Linked DNA regions of Homo sapiens. The protein of the gene in region 2 purifies or fractionates together with the protein of the main gene of each other region. This does not show direct contact. Each region holds a gene or a part of one and is shown on either strand. Other genes may lie near its edges.

Evidence for each region.
Region 1: the proteins of DAB2IP (region 2) and EVA1A fractionate together in Homo sapiens (co-fractionation; one large-scale study listed by BioGRID). This does not show direct contact.

What each region holds. Positions count from the first base shown.
Region 1 is NC_000002.12:75,491,737-75,495,177, reverse strand, and holds the end of EVA1A (protein eva-1 homolog A), read left to right. Parts: intron 1-1,568; coding exon 1,569-1,942; 3' UTR 1,943-2,860; downstream 2,861-3,441. UniProt on the Homo sapiens protein: Acts as a regulator of programmed cell death, mediating both autophagy and apoptosis.
Region 2 is NC_000009.12:121,766,315-121,770,133, reverse strand, and holds part of DAB2IP (disabled homolog 2-interacting protein), read right to left. Parts: intron 3,641-3,819; coding exon 3,404-3,640; intron 1,703-3,403; coding exon 1,501-1,702; intron 1-1,500. UniProt on the Homo sapiens protein: Functions as a scaffold protein implicated in the regulation of a large spectrum of both general and specialized signaling pathways.

The DNA.
Region 1 (3,441 bases), on a different chromosome or scaffold from region 2:
ATTTCCAGAACCTACAAAAATTGTCCAAATATACACAAAGGCATAAGAATGATATAATAGACTGTGGGGACTCAGGGGAAATTGGTGGGAGGGGGGTGAGGGATAAAAGACCATACATTGGGTACGGTGTACTCAAGGCCAGGCCTGTTCCTTTGTCCTCGTAGGTACCTAGAATGAAAACTGTTCACTCAAAGACTCCCATTCTGTTAAGCACATCTTACAGGGGTCACAACTAGGCCCCCTAAGCATACTGATCATTAACAGAATGACTGTTATCTTCTCTCACCAAGGAAAGAGCTCTAATTTCTCCTCCCCTTTCAGTTAACCTGCTGAGGCCACTCCTAAATACCTATACTGGCTTTCAATGTGTGACTGATTGCAACTATTGCTTTTTACAAAACTACCCCAAAACTTAGTGGCTGAAAACACACATTTATTATCTCCCAGTTTCTACAGGTCAGAAATCTGGGTGTGGCTTAGCTGGGTTCCTTGGTTCAAGGTTTCTCACAGGCCACTGCAAGGCCAGGACTGTGGTCCCCTCAAGACTAGATGGAGGGATGATTCACAACCAAGCTCATTCACATGGCTGTTGGCACCATTCCTCAAAGGGTGTTGGCCAAAGGCCACCCTTAGTTCCTTGCCACTTGGACTTCCCCATAAGGCAGCTCACACATGGCAGCTGGCTTCATCAGAACCAGCAAGTAAGAAGAGCCCCAGAGAAGGAGAGAGTAAGAGAACAAGACAAAATCACAGTCTTATGTAACCTAATCTTAGAATCACCCATTGCTTTTGCCATATCCTACAGTCGTCCCTCGGTATACGCAGGGCATTGGTTCCAGCATCCCTGTGTTTACCCCAGTCCGTGCATGCATACTTAAGTTCTGCAGATGACCCTGCAGAAGCCACATATTTGAAAAGCTGACACTCCTTATATGTGGATTTCTCATCTCGCAAATAATGTATTTTCGATCTACATGTTTGTTTGAACAAAATCCATGTATAGGTGTCCTGTGCTGTTCAAACCCATGTTGTCCAAGGGTCAACTGTATTTCTTAGAAGTCACTAGGTCCACCACTTGAGGGGAGAGGATTGCACAAGCGTGTGAATACTAGGAGATGGGGTTCATCTCAGAAGCTGTCTACCACTGTGATGAAAGGGTAATTCAGTGGGGGTGTATGAGCAAATTCTCAAGTAAAGCTGTTTTGGCCTAGGTGAAAAGAGGCTTTAGATAGATACATCTCTTAAACAAATGACACCTAAGCACGGCTGCTTGCGTACAGTAGGTGCTAAATAATTACTGTTTTTCTTTCTTTTACCTTTTCATTTGGGAATAATCTCTAAGTTAAAGTTGCAAGAAGAGTGAAAGAATTTCATATACCTTTCACAGATTCACCGTTTGTCAATAATTATATTTTGAATACATTATAAAATATGTCACATTGGAGGACAATATTTGTAACCATCAAAACTTTGGGGCCTGGTGAGAAGTGTAGGCTGGAGTCATATTGGATCTCTGCATATGGAGTTGTCATCTCTCAAATGCTTGCTTCTTCCTCTTCTTCCTCCAGAAAATCCTGAGCGAGCAGCTCTGTACTTTGTTTCTGGCGTGTGCATCGGGCTGGTGCTGACCCTGGCTGCTCTGGTGATAAGGATCTCTTGCCACACAGACTGCAGGCGGCGTCCCGGGAAGAAGTTCCTGCAGGACAGAGAGAGCAGCAGCGACAGCAGCGACAGCGAGGATGGCAGTGAGGACACCGTGTCCGATCTCTCCGTGCGGAGACACCGCCGCTTCGAGAGGACTTTGAACAAGAATGTGTTCACCTCTGCGGAGGAGCTGGAGCGCGCCCAGCGGCTGGAGGAGCGCGAGCGCATCATCAGGGAGATCTGGATGAATGGCCAGCCTGAGGTGCCCGGGACCAGGAGCCTGAATCGCTACTATTAGGGAGCAGCAGGACCCCGGAAACCACTGGAGGCCGCCTGGAAAGGAGAGCGTCTGCAGGGACAGTGGGCACAAGGAACTGAACCCAGCTCTGCTAATATTGTGATTTCAGAGAAAAAGCAGGACATGCCCCTTTTCTAGCCAGGAGGATTGCTCCTTTTTGGCCAAATGTATGGAGAAGTAGAAAAATCAAAGCAGTTCATCACCCTTTCCAGGTCTCGGAATGGTGCTGAAAAATCCTCTCCAACACTGTGGATGGAGATCGGAGAAACGCGACTGTGGTTTCTCTTGATTTCTGAGGATCTCAGAAGTTTCAGCAGACTTCCTTGCTCTGTGTTATTCCTTTGCAAAAGGAAAGATCATTATAGCATGAGGGCTGGGAATAGCAGGGTGAACTTAACCCAATAAATGCAATTTCCTAAATGACTTCATGCTATGGAGGTGATTCTGATTCAAATAGCATGATCCATGCTTATTATTTAAGGCTGATTTTTAAAATCTTGTGTTGCAAGGGCAACCTCGTCCATTTTAACTGGCACCTCAGGGATTAAAATCCTACTTTTTAGTGTAGTTCCCACCTCATTCATGAAAATGAATAGAACTATTGTATTATGGGAGATGTGTCAGTGAACTAGAAAATGTCAATAACCTCAAAGGATGAAGGGTTTTTATTTTAAATAGTTTATAAAATATATATTGACATGCATATTTGAAAATGCTGCATAAAAATAAAAGTGGTGTGTTTTCCCCCTCTTTGGAGACAAGAAAATTTTATTATGACTCTAGATAATTGTGATTTTAAACACTTTGTTTTTTTTTTTTTTTTTAATTGGATTTCAAAGAAAAGAATGGAAATGAGAGGTAAGGATTAAAGCCAAAGTTAGGATGGGAATTAAAAAAATAAACATTACATAAAATCTTTTTGGTTGCATGTCCGTCTCTGTGGTTACCCTTACCTTAAATGACAACCCTTTTATATACGTGGGTATGGGCTTTTGCCAGGCCCCTCAAGGATTAGAGTGGGGAGATGGTTCCCGTGTGATAATGGGCTTTTCACTTTCTGTAGGTTATATGTATGATTGCTATAGTTGAGTTGTTAAGCAGATAGAGGAATAGAAGACTTCCCTAAAGCTAGAAATAAGATGGTAGCCCTTATATGAAAAGAAGTTGGTAGGGAAGGAGGAGAAGCCAGGCTCTGCCAATTTAGAAATAGGTTACAGAGGACAAAACATCCCCTAAGCTGGTAAACAGGAAGAGTGAGACCTGTCTCTCTGTTGACTCCCTTCTCTTGTCATGGAGTAGATTCCTAGTCAGTCTATCTGGGTGCTCCAGGGCCTTCCTGCTGGGAGGCTCTCCCCTGTTCATTGACTTTGTCACCATGCTTAAGAGGATGGTCAGGAGACTTCCTCTGGTGAGGTCTCCACTGCTTTAGCAACCCACTTTTTGTTGTAAGGACTCTTGGAGGGCTCTGTTAAGAACTGAACAATCATAATCATAATCTT
Region 2 (3,819 bases):
CTTGGCACCTGAGCCCCAGTGGAGATGGTCCAAGCACACTGCAGGCACCCTCAGGTGCTGGTCAGGCAGAAGGCAGTGCCTGAACCCATCTGAACCTTGCTGGCACGCTTTAGAGAACTTAAGGGGCAGAGGATTCTAGGCTTTGGGGACACTGCCTTCACCTGTTTATGCACAAGCTTCCACAGAGGTCTCTGTGAGAAAACAAAGTGTGAAAACTCATGCAGGCAATAGAGCACGCAATTGAGAGGCAAACAGTTGAGTTTCAAATCCCTGTTGCACCCTATCACCGATGTGACAATACTGATCACCTTCCATTCTTCCTGCCTGGTTGTGCAGATACGTGGACAGCACAGGGGAAAGGTAAGTGGTGGCAGTGACAGTGACTAGTGTTGGCTGCAGTGCAGGGACTGGAACAGGTGGAATGTAGGGTCTCAGCCCTCATTTCCATTTCTCCCTCCTGTGTCTCTCACAGCCAAAGGCAAGTGGATACAAATGAGCAAAAATGATGGCCTTTGATTGCAACAGGACCTATTTCTAGTGAAAAGTCAGGACTAACCTAAGTGTCCATCAATAGGGGACTGGTGAAATAAATAGCATTCATACAATGCAGTCATTAAAAAGTCCCTGGGGGTGGTGGAGATTGCACTGACAAGCAAAGAGGCCCACAACACAGTGGTAAGAAATGCACACAGCAGCATACACAGTATGTTCTTGCTTTAAAACAAACTGAAGAAGGAAAAGAGCTCTATGTGTGTGCGCCTGCATGTGTGTGTGCGCTTACACATGCACAGATCGTGTCCAGAAGGCTGCATACCAGTGCTCTGAGCGGTCACCTCTAGGGAATGGGACCAGGAGGCATGAAGGGCCTTCCAGGCCAGTTTCAGCACCTTACAAAAGTAAGGTGGTCCCTTGGAGCCCTAGAAAGCAACAGATATTCGGGAAGTAGTTCCTGGTAGACCCAGCCCTTAAGTCCAAGAACTAGTTGCTCACTGTGTGGGCTGAGGCTGGGGGTCAGTGAAGTCTCGGGCTAGGGAGGGCTCACTTCAGGTGACTGCAGCAGTGTCAGAGGTGTCTAGGGAGTAACCTTGTCAACTGATGGTCAAGGGCAATCCTAGAAAGGTTTTCGACTTCCTGCTGGACAAGTGGAGGTACAGGGTCTTGAGTCATCTTCTTCATACAGGCGGATTCACGATCCAATTCTATTTCTCACATGCTCTGGCAGGCAGCACAGTGGCGCTTGTCCACTAAAGGCTGAGTGCATGCGGAACACCCCAGCTCTAGTACCCAGAGTGGGGCAGCCTTGGCAGATACTGCTGAGTGAACATAGCATTTGCCCACAGAGAAAATGGGGCCCACAGATCCCCAGTGTGTTCTGACAGGACCTGGCCTGATCATGCCACTTGGGCAAACTCTCTGCCCTCCATGGTTACTCTGGAAGGGGGAACACTAAAAGCCTGATGGCAGCTTTTGGCCCCACCTCCGCCCCACGGCAACAGGCACCTGCTCCAGCTGGCTGACGGCCTCCCAGAGCAGTGAGTGCAGGCTGGAGAGCTCGCGGCCCAGGTCGATGTAGCCCTCGAAGCCGGCTGTATTGGAGAGGGTCTCGGGGTTGGAGATCTCCAGCAGGAAGCGCTGCATGTTGGTCCACTCATGCTCTAGGAACTGGTTCATGAAGGACATGTATTCCTCCTTGCTGCCAAATCTGGAGAGAGGGCAGTTGGGTGAGCACTACTGGGCCCAGGCAGGCCCTGCCCAGGAACTCCCTCCACTGGGACACCACCACCCGCTTTCCCCACTATGGCAGGCTCCCACTCCATTCACTCCCCAAGTCAGCTGAATATGCTCTGACCCAGGTCACCAGGGCCCTCCTTGCTCATGGTAAGTCCAGCGATCCTTTTCTGAACCTTTTATCTCAGGACCTGGAATGTTCTGTGTCCCCCATACACTGCCTGTTAACAGTGTCCTTCGGCTTTTCCTCCAAGTTTCACTGCCCTGGTATGCAGATGATGCTCAATCCCTGCTCAACCCAGGTCTCCCAATGAGCTTTCAGGCATGTATTAATATATCTGCAGGCACCACCCCTGGGAGTCCCTCCTACTCAGCCTGCCACACCTGAAGTCATCATCAACACCCAAACCCATGCCCTCCTCCTGAGCTCCCTACCCTAAGTGGAGACCCCACTACCCATACAGATACACCTGAGACAGAATCTCTGGCAGCTGTCAACTCCTCCCTCTTCCTCATTCCCAAATGGCACGGCCCACTGATTTTGCCTTCTAATCACCCCTAACCTTGTCCCTTGCAGCCACTGCCTCCTGTACCCGCTCCCCTCCCTGCGAATTTTCTGCTATTGTTGCTGGAACCACAGCTATGCTCTCCTTTCACGTCTCCTGGCTACCATCCTGCTCCCTCCAACCCATCTGCCCACTGCTGTCAGGGTGAGCTTTTCAGGATCCAGAACAGAGGAAGGCCATCCTCTCCCTTGTTTAAAACCCTCTGGTGGCTCCCACAGCCCTGTCTGGCCTTCAGGTCCCTGCTGTCCTCTTAGGTCTCATCGCCCGCTTCTCCTGACCTGGCACAGTGCATGGCCCTCCCTGGGATGCCCAGCCTCTGCTCCTCTTGAGACAATGAACGCCTCACCCTGACATGCAGTTGGGGGATCATGTCACCCTGGAGGCTTTCCTGTCTCCTCTCCCAACAAGCTGAGAGCCCTCCTAAGAGGCTCGTGTGTGTCTATCACTGCTCTCCTGCTCATTCCACACGTCTCCCTGGCTGAAGTGCTGAGCGCCACCAGGACTGATTCATCTTGGTGCCGTCAGAGCCCAGCACACAGATGGCCCCAGGATGGGGCTCAATCTATGTTTTGAGAATGAACAACAGTGAGACGACCCAGCCCTTCTACTTCTGCCCACTTGCTCTAAGGATGCAGCCAAAAACACCAATAGTGCTTTATCAGCAAAGACATCCTGATAGCCTGACACCAGGATGGTGGTGCCCAACCCAAGTGCCCAAGCACAGGGAATGGATTAAGGAAATATGGGCCAGTCCCCCTTGGAGGAATATTAGTCATTTATTTCAAAACAGGGCTTAATGAATGTTAAGGGATATGTGAGAATCCTTATAATAATACATTAATTCAAAAAAGCAGAAGGAAAAAAATGTCTCATGTCGTCACCTTTAAAAATTAAGAAACATACCAAAATGACATATACCTTGAGTAGAAGGACAGGGTGTGGAGATTTTATTTTTTAAAAAGCGGGAAGGAGAAGGACTGAGGATGACAGGGACAAAACCAGGGCCTGTTTATGGTCTCTGCTCAGCTTGGGGGCAGAAACACCCCCAGGGCCTGCCCTGTGGACACCAGCCCTGCCCAACTCTGCCTGGTGAGGGAGGAGGCACTCACTTGGCAAAGTTGGCCAGGTTCTGGGTGACCTTGGCGATGAGGGTGAGGGTGCGGGCAGTGCGGTCATCAGGGTACTCCTGCAGCAGGTTGAAGAGTGAGGGCGACATGATGGCTGGGCAGAGGAAGCGCAGGAAGAGGGAGGCGCTGATGAGCCGCTCACTGATGTCCGGGCGGCCGCGACTGCTGCACTCCTGCCTCCACGAGGCAAACACCTCTTTCAACTCCCGTGGGAAGACACTGTGTAGGGACAGACAAAGGTGGGCTTGGCTGTCAGGCAGGGGCCCAGGACAGGAGTGCACAGAGCAGGAACCTGCATTCCAACCTTGGCTCTACCCCGCCAGCTGCGTGAGGTCAGCCCCGCTGTCTGAGCTCTGAGGACACAGCCATCTGGGGAGAGCAGTCAATACAGGGTGGCT